Linked DNA regions of Homo sapiens: region 2 is linked to region 1. The links come from fine-mapping of genetic effects on gene expression. Tissue or cell type: whole blood. Region 1 holds a variant in brackets; the other region holds the start of a gene. All regions are shown on one strand. Distances are from middle to middle.

What was found. PIP is the estimated chance that this variant, and not a neighbour inherited with it, causes the effect.
Region 2: it holds the start of SLC25A38, and the variant in region 1 is fine-mapped to the expression of SLC25A38 in whole blood (TOPMed, PIP above 0.99).

What each region holds. Positions count from the first base shown.
Region 1 is chr3:39,433,849-39,441,956 of GRCh38, forward strand. No RefSeq gene overlaps it. Among named protein-coding and RNA genes, the nearest start is that of SNORA62, 27 kb to the left of the region's middle. The variant A/G (reference allele first, on the strand shown) is at 4,272.
Region 2 is chr3:39,378,450-39,386,557 of GRCh38, forward strand. It overlaps SLC25A38 (solute carrier family 25 member 38), which reads left to right and starts at 4,921. Exons shown (of 7, transcript NM_017875.4): 1 at 4,921-5,344. The coding sequence starts at 5,276. It overlaps LOC105377037 (a long non-coding RNA gene), which reads left to right. Exons shown (of 3, transcript XR_001740661.3): 3 at 2,478-2,703. LOC105377644 (a long non-coding RNA gene) reads right to left here and starts at 5,876. Exons shown (of 3, transcript XR_007096252.1): 1 at 5,792-5,876; 2 at 4,504-4,595; 3 at 982-2,671. RefSeq lists enhancers at 5,230-5,409, 5,430-5,529, 5,540-5,589, 6,060-6,129 and a silencer at 5,820-5,969.

The sequences.
Region 1 (8,108 bases):
AACAGTGTCTTCCTCTCCAGGCCAATCCCTGCAGTGGGATGTGGGTCTCCTTGATGACGGCCCCTCTGTCCACACCAAAACCCTTGCCGACCATTGCAAAAGGCTGAGAGTTTTGAATTCTCTGTCCCTAAGAAAGAAAGGAAAACAGGGAGATCTTCACGATTATAAACTGAACCCTGGAACACCCCTCCTGTCCTTCCCCGAACAGGCCTGTGCCCCCTGCTCATTCTCCAGGTGCACCCCAAATCAAGAAAGCTCAAATTCCAGTGATGAGACTGGGTGCTTCCACTTGGAAGCTGAGAGACATCTTCTGTCTTCTGCTTCCCTGCAAGTCTTGGGCCTCCAATTAGTGGAGAGGGAAAGTGTCGCAGACGTGGGTGTGGCAGGAGCCCAGGTGGAGCCTCTGGTGGAGCGGAGGAGAGAGATGATGCTGCCTTTCCCAAGAACAAGCTCACAGTGCTGCCCAAAAGGCTCCTGGAGAGGTGACTTTGCCCAACAGGCCCCAAGTTGCTTACTTTCTCAGTCCTCAGGTTTTCACAGGGAAGAGACCCGCCACCCTCACTGCCCCCACCTCACCCAGGAGGACTGAGACTTCATTTGCTCTTCTCCTCCTTCGCTGGGTCCATTCCACAGTGCTAGTCTGAGAGGTGTGGTGTTGGGGGAAGACATAAAGGAGGTGTTTAGCCTTCTGAGGTGTGGTAGGGTAGGGGTGTTGATAAAGCCAGAGCCCCTCCTGTAAGGTAGGACTGGGTTCAGGGGACACTGACTTGGATTGTAATGCCTGAGGCCTCAGGGAAGGGCTCTGATCTCAGGCAAGACAGGGCTGGGCTCGGGGAGGAGCTGGATCCCTGAATTTTTGTGAGGAGATGTTTATTTCATGAATGTGTGTGTATGAGGTCCCTCTGTATCCCCGCCAATACTCTGGGCCTGTCTCTGTGACTCACTCATAGTAGAAGGGGAGGGTGTGGTTGGTGGGGTTTGGTTGAGCTTACCGTGCCCCCAGGGGATGAGAGAGGCACTCTTGGGGAACCCCCAGTAGGCGGGGTGCTGGTCTCTCTCTACCTCCTGCATCTGCCTGGTGGTGCCTCCTCTGGATCCCCAGCATCTCCTCGTTTCTTCAGGCCTCCCCCTTCTCCCTTGAGCCCTTATGTCCCATGTGATATTTTAGCTAGTTCCCATCCCATCCAAGGAGGCTGCTATCTGGCTCTGGCTGGGAAATAAACATGTGCTTTTGCTACCAACATCAGAATTGTGTTGTTTGTCTCAAAAGAGCACCATACTGGGGCAGCAGGTGAAGCACAGGAAGTTCTGGAAAACATCAACTGTCACACTCATCTCCAGGGAGAATATCCTTATAGGAACCCTGTGGAGAGGCCAGTGTGCATCTGTGAGAGGCAGGTGGGAAATTCACAGGATCTGAGTCAGGAGAGGAGGGTGACTACTCAGAGGGGTTCAAAGCAACACTTGTTATTCCTAGAGGGGTGTTTTTAAATGTGGCAGAGAAGGCCCAGTGTGGAGGCTGTTGGCCAAGGAGCTGGTCCAGTAGCCCTGAGGAATGGTGGCAGGGATTTCTGAGAAGGGTGGGGTTCTCAGCTCCAGCTGGTCAGGCCAGCTGTCTGGAAGGGTGGGAGCTTCTTGCACCAGTGTGTGGGGGTGCAAGCATCTGTCCCAGGTACCCAACAGCCCCTGGGAAGGGTGTTAGGCCCCTCTGCACCCCCACTAATGCTCTGGGCCTGTCTCTGTGACTCATAATAGGAGGGGAGGTGTGGTGGGGGCCATGTCTGCCCGGCAGGGCTGAAGTTATTTCTTTAGATCTCTCAATGACCCACAGAAGTGCATTCAGAGGCCTCTTCCCTGCTGCAAACAGACTCTAGACAAATGTAGAAGAGAGAAAATTGAGACAAGTGTGTCTTCCAGCTCTCCATCAGTAGGGGAGAAGACTCCATGACCCCCTTAGGGTGTATCAAGAGACTCCCTGTGCCACAGGCATCAACAAATCCACACAGGGCCTGGTGAGGGGAGATGTTTTCCCTGAAACTTCAGAAATATTCCTACACCATGGCCGGGCGCGATGGCTCATGCCTGCATTCCCAGGATTTTGGGAGGCTGAGGCGGGCTGATCACTTGAGGTCAGGAGTTTGAGACTGCCTGGTCAGGATGATGAAACCCCGTCTCTGCTAAAAACACAAAAATTAGCCGGGTGAGGTGGCACATGCCTGTAATCTCAGCCACTCAGGAGGCTGAGGCAGGAGAGTCACTTGAACCTGGGAGGTGGAGGTTGCAGTGAGCTGAGATCATGCCACTGCACTCCAGCCTGGGCAACTGAGTGAGACTCCGTCCTCCAGCCACCCCGCAAAAAAATTCCTACACCAAGAGCAGGCCCATCTGCAGGTACCAGAAGACTTTTGAGTCATTTTTGAAATTCACTTATTATACAATTTAGAAGATCTCAACCCACATATAACTAAGAAGTATGTGATATATCCTCATAGAGTTTAAGTATATAAATATATATACGCACACATACATAATTTTCTAAAATAATGCTATGTGTTGAACTGTTTTTGATATTTCCTTCCTCCCTGAGGTCGTAGAGTTTTTGTTCTTTTGACACCTTGGTTGACTTTATCATTTTATCACCTGAGTATGCCTCTTCAATTCATACATTGTTTTATTTTCCTGTTTTTTTAAAAAAACAACTTTATTGACATATGACATGTGACATGCCATACAACTTACCCATTTAAAGTGTACAACTCAGTAGTTTTTAATATATTCACAGAGTTATGAAATCACCTCCATAATCAATTTGAATATTTTCCTCCACAAAGGAACCTTATGACCATTAGCAGTTAGGCAACCACTCTTCTACTTTTGGTCTCTACATACATGCCTAAATGGAATGATACAGCATATGGTCCTTTATAGCAGGAATGGATATTTTATTTCTTTTTCTGGCTGAACAATACTGCACCGTATGGATATACTACTTTTTTCTTTTTTGAGACAGGGTCTTGCTCTCTTACCCAGGCTGGAGCATAGTGGTGCGATCATAGCTCACTACAGCCTCAACCTCCTTGGCTCAAGCAATTCTCTCACCTCGGCCTCCCAGAGTGTTGGGATTACAGGCATCAGCTACTGTGCCTGGCTGATATATTACATTAAAAAATAAAAAATCTGTTGGCTGGGCGTGGTGGCACACGCCTGTAATCCCAGCACTTTGGGAGGCTGAAGTGGGTGGATCACCTGAGGTCAGGAGTTCAAGACCAACCTGGCCAATGTGGTGAAACCCTGTCTATCCTAAAAATACAAAAATTAGCCGGTCGTAATGGCTCATGCCTGTAATCCCAACTACCTGGGAGACTGAGGCAGGAGAATTGCTTGAATCTGGGAGGTGGAGGTTGCAGTGATCTGAGGCCATGCCATTACACTCCAGCCTGGGTGGCAGAGTGAGACTCTGCCTCAAAAAAAAAAAAAAAAATCTGTTTGTCATTTGATAGACATTTGTTGGGTTGTTTCTGTTTTTTCGCTGTTATGAACAATGCTGCTATGAATATTAGTGTACAAGTGTTTGTGTGGACATTGTCCTTTCTTTTGCATATATACTTAGGAGTGGAATTGCTGGGTCATATGGTAACTCTATGTTTAACCACTTGAATTACCAGACTGTTTTCCAAAGTGGCTATACCATTTTACATTCCTACCAGCAGTGTATGAGGGTTACCATTTCTCCACATCCTCGTCAACACTTGTTACTATCTGTCTTTCTGATTCTATGCAGGCTAGTGAGTGTGAGTGTTCTCTCATTATGGCTTTGATTTACATTTTCCTGATGACTGTGTGCTTATTGGTCATGTGTATGTCTTAGAGAACTGTCTATTCAGACTCTTTGGCATTTTTTAGTTGGGCCAGCTGGTTTTTCACCTTCCTATAAATGGAATAATTGCACATCTTTTTGTGTGACTTGCCTCTTTCCCTCAGTGTTGTCTCTGTGCTTTTCATTCCTGGTCACCATGCTCCTGCAGGGTCTTCATGACATCAGTGTACTGCAATGGCCATTTGGACTGTTCCAGTTTTTGGCCATTATTAACTTGGTCACTTTGAACATTTTTGATAGATTAGATTAGATAGATTTTTACTCCTTAAAATAAGGAATAAAATAAATGGGCCTGCTCTTGGTGTGGGAATATTTTTTTAAGGATTTGGCTTAAAAAGTCCTTTATTTTAAGGAATTGGCTCATGTGCGGGTACAAGTCCAAAATCTGCAGGGT[A/G]GGCTGCTAGGAAACAGTTGAAGTTTGTCTCCCAAAGACAATCTTATGGCAGGATTCTTTCCTGCTTGGTCTGGAACTTTGGAATGGCTTCCACCAATAGGCCCTTCCTCAAGGACTTAAAGCTTTTACTGCTTAGCTGAGAGCAGTGACTAACGAACTCAAAAGCACTCCTTCTAACACCTTCTTTTCTATTTGGAAAACAGTTTCATAATGTACAAAACATGCTTACTGCAGCAGGATACATAAAAGATTAATGTTATCTTTGCTATCTGTTGAGTGAGAATGGAGAATCATCATTCATTTGTCCTTTTTCCCCCTAAGTTCCTCCCTCTCTCCCTCCCTCCCTCCCTCCCTCCCTGGGCGACAAGAATGAAACTCCGGAAAGAAAAGAAAAGAAAAGAAAAGAAGGAAGGAAGAGAGGAAGGAAGGAAGGAGGGAGGGAAGGAAGGAAGGAAGGAAGGAAGGGAGGGAGGGAGGGAGGGAGGGAGGGAGGGAGGGAGGGAGGGAGGAAGGAAGGAAGAAAGGGAGGGAGGGAGGGAGGGGCCAGGCACAGTGGCTCACGCCTATAATCCCAGCAATTTGGGAAGCCAAGGTGGGTGGATCACTTGAGGTCAGGAGTTTGAGACCAGCCTGGGAATGTGACAAAGCCCCGTCTCTATGAAAAATACAAAAATTAGCCAGGCGTAGTGTCGCATGCCTGTAATCCTAGCTACTTGAGTGGCTAAGGCACAAAATAGCTTGAATCTGGGAGACAGAGGTTGCAGCCTGGGTGACAGAGTGAGACTCTGTCTCAAAAGAAAAAAAAAAAAAGGAAGGAAGAAGGAAAAGAAAGAAAGAAAGACAGCCATAGTCAAGTTCAATTCCAGACAATGGCAATGATTTATTTATAAACATTGCATATTTTGTCAGAATTTAAAATGAAACTGGTAGGCCTCCGAGAGTTTCACTTTATTTGCAAGATAAGGGATTTGTTTATGTGATCTCCAAGTTTTATTTCCTCCCAAATAGTACGTGGATGACCGGGCAACAGAGTTCCCCAAATGATCTGATAAAACTTCATGTGGGAACCAGCGAAGAAAGTAAGGCTGCCTCCCAGGGTCAGTCAGCTGCATGGAGGCAGGATGAAGACTGGTACCTGCACCTCTGAAAAGAAGGGCAAAGCCTTCTGTGCATTGCACTTCCAGGCATGGATCACACTAATGCAGCCTGGTTCATTTCTCCCTAGCTGTGCCTTCAACAGCAGCTGACAGGTGATGGGACAAGGTCTCTAAAAAATTTCATATGGGGGTCAGGCTGCAGGGTAGAGCAAAGGTTGTCGAGGTCTGAAAAACCTCTGACTACACCGGCCTCCAAGCCTGCTCAGATGGCCCACACACTCGGGGAGCTCTTCTCAGTCACATCAGGTCAGTGCTGTTTTTTATGAGTCCTTGAACTGTGCATGTTTCTCATCATCCATGCTAATCTAATGTGGGCTCCAGAAGATAATCATTGTAACGAGAGGATGCTTAATGTTGTGATTGAAAAAACTGTAAGGCCTACAGCTTATGGATTATATAATAATGTAATAGTTATTGATTCAATCATTCATTTACCCCAAATCTATGCAACTGGGAACCCATAATGAGCCAAACTTTTTGCTAATTACTAGGGCAATAATGGCCAGAATTAAGTAATTTCAGATAATAAATCACCTTTGCTCAGCTTTGGGACTAAACCCTCTGTGAAACCAGCAGACAATGTCATCATTTTCTCCTGCTTCCCTCTCCAGATTCATTCCATTTTCTTCCTATTAAAATTCTACCCTCTAGGCATGCAGCTCACCTTGAGGGTCCCTGATCACTCTCCCTTCTAGGACTTCACAGACACTCTCCTCTTTTCTCTGCAGCTTTTTGTTCCATTTTTGCATATGGCAGCTTGGACAGTTTTCTTTGGAGAGTGGGAAGAATAACATATTTTTGTTTTATTATTAAAAAATACATTGTCCAGGCCAGGTGCAGTGGCTTACGCCTGTAATCCCAGCACTTTGGGAGGCTGAGGTGGGTAGATCATTTGAGGGCAGGAGTTCGAGACCAGCCTGGCCAACATGGTGAAACCCCGTCTCTACTAAAAATACAAAAGTTAGCCGGGCGTGGTGGCAGCTGCCTGTAGTCCCAGCTACTCGGGAGGCTGAGGCAGGAGAATCACTTGAGCCCAGGAGGCAGAGATTGCAGTGAGCTGAGATTGCGCCATCGTACTCCAGCCTGGGCGACAGAGTGAGACTGTCTCAAAAACAAAACAAAACAAAACATTGTCCAGTGCAGTGGCTCATGTCTATAATCTCAACACTTTGGGAGGCTGAGGTAGGAAGATTGCTTGAGCCTGGGAGTTTGAGGCCAGCTTGGGCAACACAGGGAAACCCGGTCTCTACAAAAACTTAAAAATTAGGCAGTGTGGTGGTGCATACCTGTAGTCCCAGCTACTTGGGAGGCTGAGGCGGGAGGATCGCTGGAGCCCAGGAGTTTGAGGTTGCTGTGAGCTATGACTGCACTACTGCACTCCAGCCTGAGTGGGAGAGTGAGAACTTGTCTTTTTTTTTTTTTTGAGACGGCGTCTTGCTCTGTCGCCCAGACTGGAGTGCTGTGGTGCAACCTTGGCTCACTGCAACCTCCGCCTCCTGGGTTCAAGTAATTCTCTGCCTCAGCCTCCCGAGTAGCTGGGATTACAGGCGCCCACGACCATGCCCAGCTAATTTTTTGTATTTTTAGTAGAGACAGGGTTTCACCATGTTGGTCAGGCTGGTCTGGAACTCCTGACCTCGTGATCCACCCACCTCGGCTTCCCAAAGTACTGGGATTACAGGCGTGAACCACTGCGCCCGGCGGAGACCTTGTCTTTTTTTTTTTTCTGTTTTTTTTAAAGTTTCAACAAAAATGAAATACCACCTGCTGATAACTCTAATAAAAAGAAAAATATATAATAGGTATTTGCTTTAAAGATTGTTTTTTTTTTTTTTTTTTTTTTTTTTTGAGGCAGGGTTTCACTCTGTTCCCCACGCTGGAGTGCAGTGGTGCAATCTCGGCTCACTGCAACCTCTGCCTCCCGGGTTCAAGCGATTTTCCTGCCTCAGCCACCCGAGTAGCTGGGATTATAGGTATGTGTCACCACGCCTGGGTAATTTTTGTATTTTTAGTACAGATGGGTTTTCGCCATGTTAGCCAGGCTGGTCTCAAACTTCTGACCTTAGGTGATCCACTCGCCTCGGCCTCCCAAAGTGTTGGGATTACAAGCGTGAGCCACTGCACCCAGTCCTAAAGATATTCTTGAAAAAATCATAATTGCAGTTGTTTACATTGTTGTGTTGCCAGCTCTCAGTTATTATGCTCATATTCTTTATTCTATGTAATATGTGTGGAAAAAATTTAAATCCTAGGTTGCTCCTGGCGTAACTCTGTAGACTCAACATCTGGAACTCTTTCTCTATTTTCAAGTTAATGTATTCTCAGAGCATGCAAAATAATTTGAATGACTGCCTAAGGAAGCACTAATACATGCTAAAACATTATGTTTTCTATAGCTAAAGAGCCCTTTGCAGCCACAGTTTTTTCAAATATTCCTAGAAAACAAGATCTGGCTGAACTGAAAATACTGATAGTATAATCAATAAGTTAGACTTGTTAAACAAAGAGTAAAGAAATGCAACATCTGAATTCTTTAAAGCCACAAGCCAGAGGAACAGATCTAAAGCACTGACTACTTAAAGCATTTTCTATCTTCAAACTTCTAGAAAAACAAATATTACAGAAGCCTTCTGTTCTATTTCACAAATCCTGACTGGTTTGAAGTGAAAGGAAATCAAGA
Region 2 (8,108 bases), 55 kb before region 1:
AGATTTTTGGTAAAAATGCAGATGTTTGGTAAGTATTTGGAATTAAAAAAACATAGACACAGGGTCTTGCTCTGTCACCCAGGCTGGAGTGCAGTGGTGCAGTCATAGTTTGCTGCAGCCTTGAACTCCTGGGCTCAAGAGACTGTCCTGCCTCCACCTTCCGAGTAGCTGGGACTACAGGCTCATTCCACCACACCTGGCTACTGTTTTTATTTTTGTAGAGACAAGGTCTTGTTATGTTGCCCAGGCTGGTCTTGAACTCTTGGGCTCAAGAGATCCTGCTGTCTCGTCCTCCCAAAATGCTGGGATTACAAGCCGGAGCCACTGAATCTACCCTAAGTATTTAATTTTATATATGGGAGGCTTCACTCTTGACCTCTAATTAAGGCCCATAAACTGGCCAGGCGCAGTGGCTCACATCTGTAATCCCAGCAATTTGGGAGGCCGAGGCAGGCAATCACCTGAGGTAAGGAGTTTGAGACCAGCCTGGCCAACATGGTGAAACTCCATCTCTACTAAAAAAACAAAAATTAGCTGGGCGTGGTGATGTGCGCCTGTAATCCCAGCTACTCAGGAGGCTGAGGCAGGAGAATCACTTGAGCCCGGGAGGCGGCGGTTGCAGTGAGCTGAGATTACACCATTGCACTCCAGCCTGGGCAATAGCACAAGACTTATCTCAAAATAACAAACAAGAAAGTTGAGGTGAATACACAGCTAGCAGGTGACAAATCCAGGATCAAATACAGAATCAATGCCTGATTCCAAAGTCCACTTTCTTTTTACAGCATTACTCTGCCTCAGTGGTCTCTCAAAGACACACAGAAAAAAGCAGGAGATAGCCTCTACCCTTTAAGGAAGGGAAACAAGGTGTATTTGTCAGGGAAATATGTGTCCTGATTTTCTTTCATCCAGATTATGAAAGATAATCTCCTTTACTTAAAGTCAACTGATTACAGAGGTTAACCACATCTACAAAATACCTTCACAGCAACACCTGGATTAGTGTTTAATTGAAAACTGGGTATTATAGCCTAGCCAAGTTGACACATAAAACTGACTGTTACACAAGATGCTGCTTATAAATGAAGTCATTCTGTCCAAGATAAAGAAAAGCTGGCCTGGCATGGTGGCTCATGCCTGGAATCCCAGCACTTTGGGAGGCCAAAGTGGGCGGATCACCTGAGGTCGGGAGTTTGAGACCAGCCTGACCAACATTTTGCTAATTTTGCTAAATGCAAAATTAGCCAGGCGTGGTGGCGCATGCCTATAATCCCAGCTACTCAGGAGGCTAAAGCAGGAGAATTGCATGAACCCAGGAGGCGGAGGTTGTGGTGAGCCGGGATCGCAGCATTGCACTCCAGCCTGGACAACGAGAGTGAAACTCTGTCTCCAAAAAAAAAAAAAAAAAAACCTTCCACATATGGATAGAGCTATAAGCAAACCACAAAACCACAAGTGGGTCCTGCTTACCCCTGTGGGAAATTCAGATCAATCAGGACCTAGAAGATTTGTGACCAGAAAATATGTGCTTATGTTTATAAACTTTTAGCCAAAATGTTGCCCGTTTCCTCATTGTGAAGAAAGCAGGAAAACAAGAAGAGTTTGATTTTTTCCATAAGATGGGGAACTGCTTTGTCAAAATATTGATGGAGTGACTTGTGGCTTCCATATGACAAAACACAAAACACCACACTGCCTGGGCACGCACCATGGCTCCTCTCCCTTCCACTGCCCCTAACAACTTGGTCCTTGGAGTAGAATGTGAAGATCCCACTCCTGCAGGAACGCAGTCCACCCCACAGAGCCATCTGCCCCTCCCTCGGATACCAGCTTGTAAGCCGCTCTAACTCATTGTTCTCTCGTAGCCTGGTCACCCTTGGCTCAGGGGTGAGGTTACAGGCAATAGTCACTGGCACAGAAGGAAGAAAGGTGTTTCCTTCTTGTGAAGCCAAAAGCAGTGACAGGACCATCCTCTTTGTGGAAGTTTCTGGGTAAAGCCATTAGAATTCCCTTTTTTTCTGCAGTATTCACCCATTCTTGTGATCAGGCAAAGAGTGGCTTCCCCCACTGGTGAAGACAGTGCCCTTGGAGACTCTTAAGGCTTCTCTTTCAGGTTGTGCATGTTTAGGATGGGAGCAGATATTCAGATGGAGAGGAGCCTCCATTAGTTACAGGACGAAGACTATCATAAGATGCCCATTAGACCTGAGAGGCCAGTAGGCATAGAGAGACTGATGAAGATGGGCGGTAAGGGAGGTTGTAGCAGAGAGAATGCATGGTATCTCCCCTCTCAATCCCCTATTGGTTTCCAAAAGGCAAAGGCTGGCCTCATTGTTTTGGCATCAGTAGAAGAGAAAATTTAGATATTTCCAGAAGCAGCTCTGGCTCCAGGCAGGTAGAAAGATCTTGCTGAGCTGGTCTGCTGGAAACATGGAGGTGGGGGCAGTGATTTACCTGTGTGCTTTTCACCATTCCAGCCATCTTCTTACAAATGAAGTGACGCAGATGCAAGGTGCTGCAAGGCCCACCTCCTCCTGCTCTGACAGGCAGACAGGAAACCAAAGCCCCTATCTGAGCAGCCTCTGTCTCTCCCATTCACCTCCAGCTTCCCATGTGGACCTTTGCCTTTTCCTTCTTGGATGGTGGAAACTCCTCCAGATGTCAAGACTTGCTGTGAATAAAGTTTTAAGAGGAGGTCATGTATCCAAACTGATACATGTGTATTTCTTCCTGGGTAGAGGGTGTCTACAATCCTTGGGATGGGAAAACATCATGTAACCTGATCATACAATCCAGAAAACATGGGCCACTTTGGATCTTTGAGGGACCAGTGTGTAATTGAGGGAAGTTAGGTCATAAGAGCCAAATCACCTTCCCTTGACTGCAGATAAATCCATTAAGGCTTGCCTTATGCTAATGACCTTGTTTTGAATTAAAGTCACAATGTTTTCTTTTTAAAAAAAAAAATTCACTCCTCCAACTTTGCCATTAAGTACTGCTCCAAACCCCCCACTCATCTGCCAATGGGTGATGCTCTTTCCCCATGATCATTATATATCTCTGCATCCCCACAAACATCCAGGGGAGGAGATGTGGGAAAAGAAGGGCCTGTGGGCTTTAGAGTTATGAGTAAGCATGGCAGGAGCAGATACAGAGGAGGGAAATCTGCCAGCTGCCACCCTTGAAAGCCAGCCCATTTCTTCTGAGCCCACAGCCAAGCAGGCATACCTGGAAGGGTGAGGGAGTGGAGGGCCGGCTTTCACTCTAGATCCCACCTGTGTTCCCACACCCAGAGTGGCCAAGAGCAGTCTCTAAAATACGCCAACCCATGATTTCTCAAAAGTAGGGATTCTTGTCTTATGGAATCAGTGCAGCGGGGGTGGGTGTCAGGGTGGAATTAGGTCTTCCTTTAAAAAGAAGTTTCAGTGCATAGTTATCAACATCACTACTGCACAAAGAAAAATAAGCCTTGCAGCTTAGAACAAAGGGTAGCAAAGTATTCAATCACCAGGCAGGTTTGTAATTTTGTTTCGTTTTGTTTTTTGAGATGGAGTCTCGCTCTGTCGCCCAGGCTGCAGTGCAGTGGCACGATCTCGGCCCACTGCAAGCTCCACTTCCTGGGTTCACGCCATTCTCCTGCTTCAGCCTCCCGAGTAGCTGGGACTACAGGCGCCTGCCACCACACCCGGCTATATTTTTAGCAGAGACGGGATTTCACCATGTTAGCCAGGATGGTCTCGATCTCCTGACCTCGTGATCGGCTCGCCTCGGCCTCCCAAAGTGCTGGGATTACAGGCGTGAGCCACCGCACCCGGCCTGTAATTTTTTTTTTTTTTTTAATGTTTATACTTTCCTTAATCCTTTCTGGGAATAACCTCCTCTGGGACCACTTTCCTTCCTGTTCTATGTACCTCAGAAGCACAGGAATGAAGCCTGAAAAAATATTATCTTGCTCCCTAAGTCACTTTCCTTTCTGATCTAGTTCTTGGGTGATGAATGAAGGTGGAAAGTAGCGAAGGTTGCTATGAAAAGCTTGGACTTTATTACCAGGGCCACTGCATTTTCAACAGGAGTGTCAGGATCCCAGCAGTAATGCTTTTCCATGGATCAGCCAGACAGGCATAAGGGGAAGTTGGGAGACCAAAAAAGCCATTGACAGATTCCAGGTGAGCAATAAACCAGAATTTTGACCAACTAGACCAGCGCTGTCCTACAGAAATGTAATGGGAGCCACATGTTAAAGTTTAAATGTTTTACTAGCCACATTTAAAAAGAAACACATGAAGTTATTATTATTTGTTTTAGAGACGGGGTCTTGCTTTGTCGTCCACGCTGGTCTCCAACTCCTTGGCTCCCTCAAGCAATCCTCCAGACTAGGCCTCACAAAGTGCTGAGATTACAGGCCTGGGCCACTGCCCCCGGCCTGAAGTTAATTTTAATATTTCACCTAACCCAATATATCCAAAATATCATTTCAACATATAAAAATTATTGAGATTTTACCTCACCAGTCTTAGACATCCAGCGTGTGGTTTATGCATACAGTACATATCAATTCCACACTAAATTTTCAGCATTTAAAGGGAAATATGGTCCTGAAAAAAAAACAACAAAACAAAAAAACGCCTGTTTAAGGAGAAAGCATTCCACACTGCTTGTTTTAATATAATTAAAATTAATGTATCAATTAATAAATCAATAGCCCACGTTGGCTAGTGGCTGCCTTACTGGGCAGACCAGGTCTGGATTGTAAATACGTTCAGACGTTCCACGCAAAAGCAAAGTTCCCTGCAGACGCTCCATTAAGTTCTGGGTGCAAGGAAGCGCGGATCCTTCAGTTCTGGGCGTTTTCACCAGGTGGCACTCAGAACACCCTCACGTGACAAGCGTCCCACCCGGAAGCGAAATCTCCCCTTCTACAGAGTTCCTCCGGCGCTTCCTCCACCCCGGGATACACAGAACCTCATCTCCTACGGTGCTGAAGCCTGCAGCAGGGCAGGATGGGCAGGAGAGCAGAGCCGCGGAGTCTGCGGCGCGGGTGAAGAGCGGCGCGTAATTCCCGCAGCAAGATTGTTCCGCGCCCGCAGCCCCTGGACTAGCAGGATCCGAACCCCGGCGGCTGCGTGCTTATAGGCGCAGACGTCAGAGAGCCCGCGGCTTAAAGCGCGTCGCCTGGCTAGCGCCACCCCCTAGCCTTCTTCAAGGCCTCCAGGGCTGGGCCCAAGCGCCCGTCGACGGCACCCTGGGCCCAGAGGACTCGCGGGCCTCATCTCCAATGATTCAGAACTCACGTCCGTCGCTGCTGCAACCCCAAGATGTCGGAGACACGGTGGAAACGCTTATGGTGAGGGCACTGCGGGGAAGGAAGGGCAGGGGTCCGAACCGCGGGCTCGGGCCGGAGAATTCGGGGCGTTGCTAAGGCTCGGCTACCCTTTTCCGCGCCCCAGGGTGCGCTCAGGATTTAGGATGCGGCGGGAGAGGAGTCTGACTAAGGGAATTGAGAAGGGGGCAGGGAGTGAGGAGAGGCCAGGAGCTGCAGGCCAGCCCTGGGGGCAGGCGCTGTAGGGCCGATGTCCCGGTAAAGGGCGGAATTGCCGGGGCCTGGACTGGACGCGTGCCGGGGAGTGTGCCCGCGCGGCCCCCACAAGGTGCGAGTAGGCTGCCAGGTGGAAGGGCACCCGGGCAGATTTGGGACGGTCACAAGGCCTGATAATAGCGCTGACGCTGAGAAGCCGTTGATGCCGCAGCGAGCTGGCCGGGTAGCGCTGTGCGCCCGCGGGCGGCGGCCTACCTGGAGGGGCCAGTCGTGGCGGCACCCTTCCAGCCTGTTGGGACGGCGCGTGGTCCCCCAGCGACGCCACGCCTCCTCCGGCGTTCGATTGGTCATCGTGCCCGGGCCGCCGGGCCGCTATTGGTGGAGGCGGAGGCGGGGCTGGCGGCGTGGTTGCCCGGTAGGTGGAGTCGGGGTGCAACCAGTCTTTAGACGCTAAAGGCCTGAGGCCACTGCAGCTGCCGCAGCTCTCCCTCTGAGGTCTTGCGCCCGAGGTAGGGGCGGCTTTTATTTTTTTTTTTAATCCTTAAAGGCGGAGACGGCGGCGGTGGCGACTTTACGTTGACGTCTTTGAAAACCTGCTTACCTTTTTCAGGGCTCTCCAGCCCTCGCCTCCAGATGTGAATTGGACTTAGGATAGTTTTTTCAGGGCAGTAGGAATTGCTTGTGGATCCAGTTTGTACTCTTATGTGCTACTTATTTCGTGTGCGTATTATTGTTTATGCCCTCTTCTTTCTCCCCTTAAAAAGAAACTACTTTTTTATTTACCTTGAATATATTTTTGAGCTTTCTTTTCTTTTTTCTTTTTTTTTTTTTTTGAGACAGAGTCTCGCCCTGTCGCCCGCGCTGGAGTGCAGTGGCGTGATCTCGGCTCAACTGCAACCTCTGACTCCCGGGTTCAAGTATTTTTCCTGTCTCAGTCTCCCACGTTGCTGGGATTACAGGCGTGCGCCACCACGCCCGGCTAGTTTTTGTATTTTTAGTAGAGAGAGGGTTTCACCATGTTGGCCAGGCTGGTCTTGAACTCCTGACCTCAAGTGATCCGTCTGCCTCGGCCTCCTAAAGTGCTAGGATTACAAGTGTGAGCCACCGCGCTTGGCCTTGAGCTACTTTTTAAAAGTTAAGTTCACTCGCAAAGGATGTGTGCCATTCACCATTGACAAAAATCTTAAGACCATTCAGTATTACCTGTTGGGATGGTTTTTGTTGTTGTTGTTGTCTTGTTTTTGCCTATTAGAAGTTGATCTATACTGCTAGTATAAATAACATCTGCTCTGTGCTAATGGACTGGGAAAAGTACAAAGCTAAAAAAGTTATTGGCTCAATAACTTGAGCCAATAACATGTCTAATCACTGTGCTGTGAAATAAAAGACGTTAAGAAGATATTTCCTGCAATCAAGGGTGGGAAGGTCAAGGACAGCAGCAAATTTGTTTTAAAACAAATTCCACACAGCACCTGTGTGAGCACTGGGGAAGCAGCGCCTAACATAACTGCCCAGAAACTAACTGCAGGTCATTCCTATAGCCTTGCTGGAGCAAGGGGCCTGGAGAGAGGTGGGGGAGATTAACCCATCCTGGGATGAGTCATGCAGGGCCCACCGAGCCCTATCATGTGGGATTGTGCTCAAAGGGAGAGCATAAGGTTTCCTGTTAGGTGGTAAGATTCATTCCGCTGTCACTGCTGAACACCTACTGTGCACCAGGCTCCGAGGTCAGTTCTTGAGATATCACCATGAACAAGACAGGCAGGAGTTGTGACTATTCTGTCTTTGACACGCAGTCATAAGGGAGATGGGGACAGGTGTTGCTGTAGAAGCCGGAAGGAGAGGCACTGAACTTGGACATGGGGGAGTTAGGGAGCAAGACCGGTGCTAGGGCATAACAACATGTCAGAGTTTTCAGAGGTGAAAGTAAGGCGGAGTCCTCCAGTATGGCTGCAGAGTGTGTTAGTGGGAGGGTGAGAACATAGGCCAAAACGGTTAGCAGGAGCCCTGTGATACATGAAAGGCCCTGCAACCAGCAGTTTGGACTTTATCCTGAGAGGAATATGAACCAATTAAAGGGTATTGGTTTGGTTGGGTTTTTTAAAATTATAATTCAATTAGTATTAATGACAAATTTGTGGGATACTCTGTAGCTCCTAATACATTTGTCATTACTTGTATTTTTATTCCATCTTTTTTTTTGGTCTTGTTTTTAAGCTAGTAACTTCAAATTTCACAAAACATTATCTTTCATTGAAGGGTTTTATTTCTGAAAGCAGCATGATCAAATTTGCAGTTTTAAAAGATGACTCAGGCGGGGCATGGTGGCCCACACCTATAATGCTAACACTTTGGGAGGCAGAGGTGAGCAGATTGCTTGAGTCCAGGAGTTTGAGACCAGCCTGTGCAACATAGCGAAACCCCGTCTCTACAAAAAAATTAGCTGGGCACGGTGACACACACCTGTGGTCCCAGCTACTCGTGAGGCTGAGGTGGGAGGATCACCTGAGCCTGAGAGGTCATGGTTGGCAGTGAGCCATGATTGTGCCACTACACTCCAGCCTAGGCATCA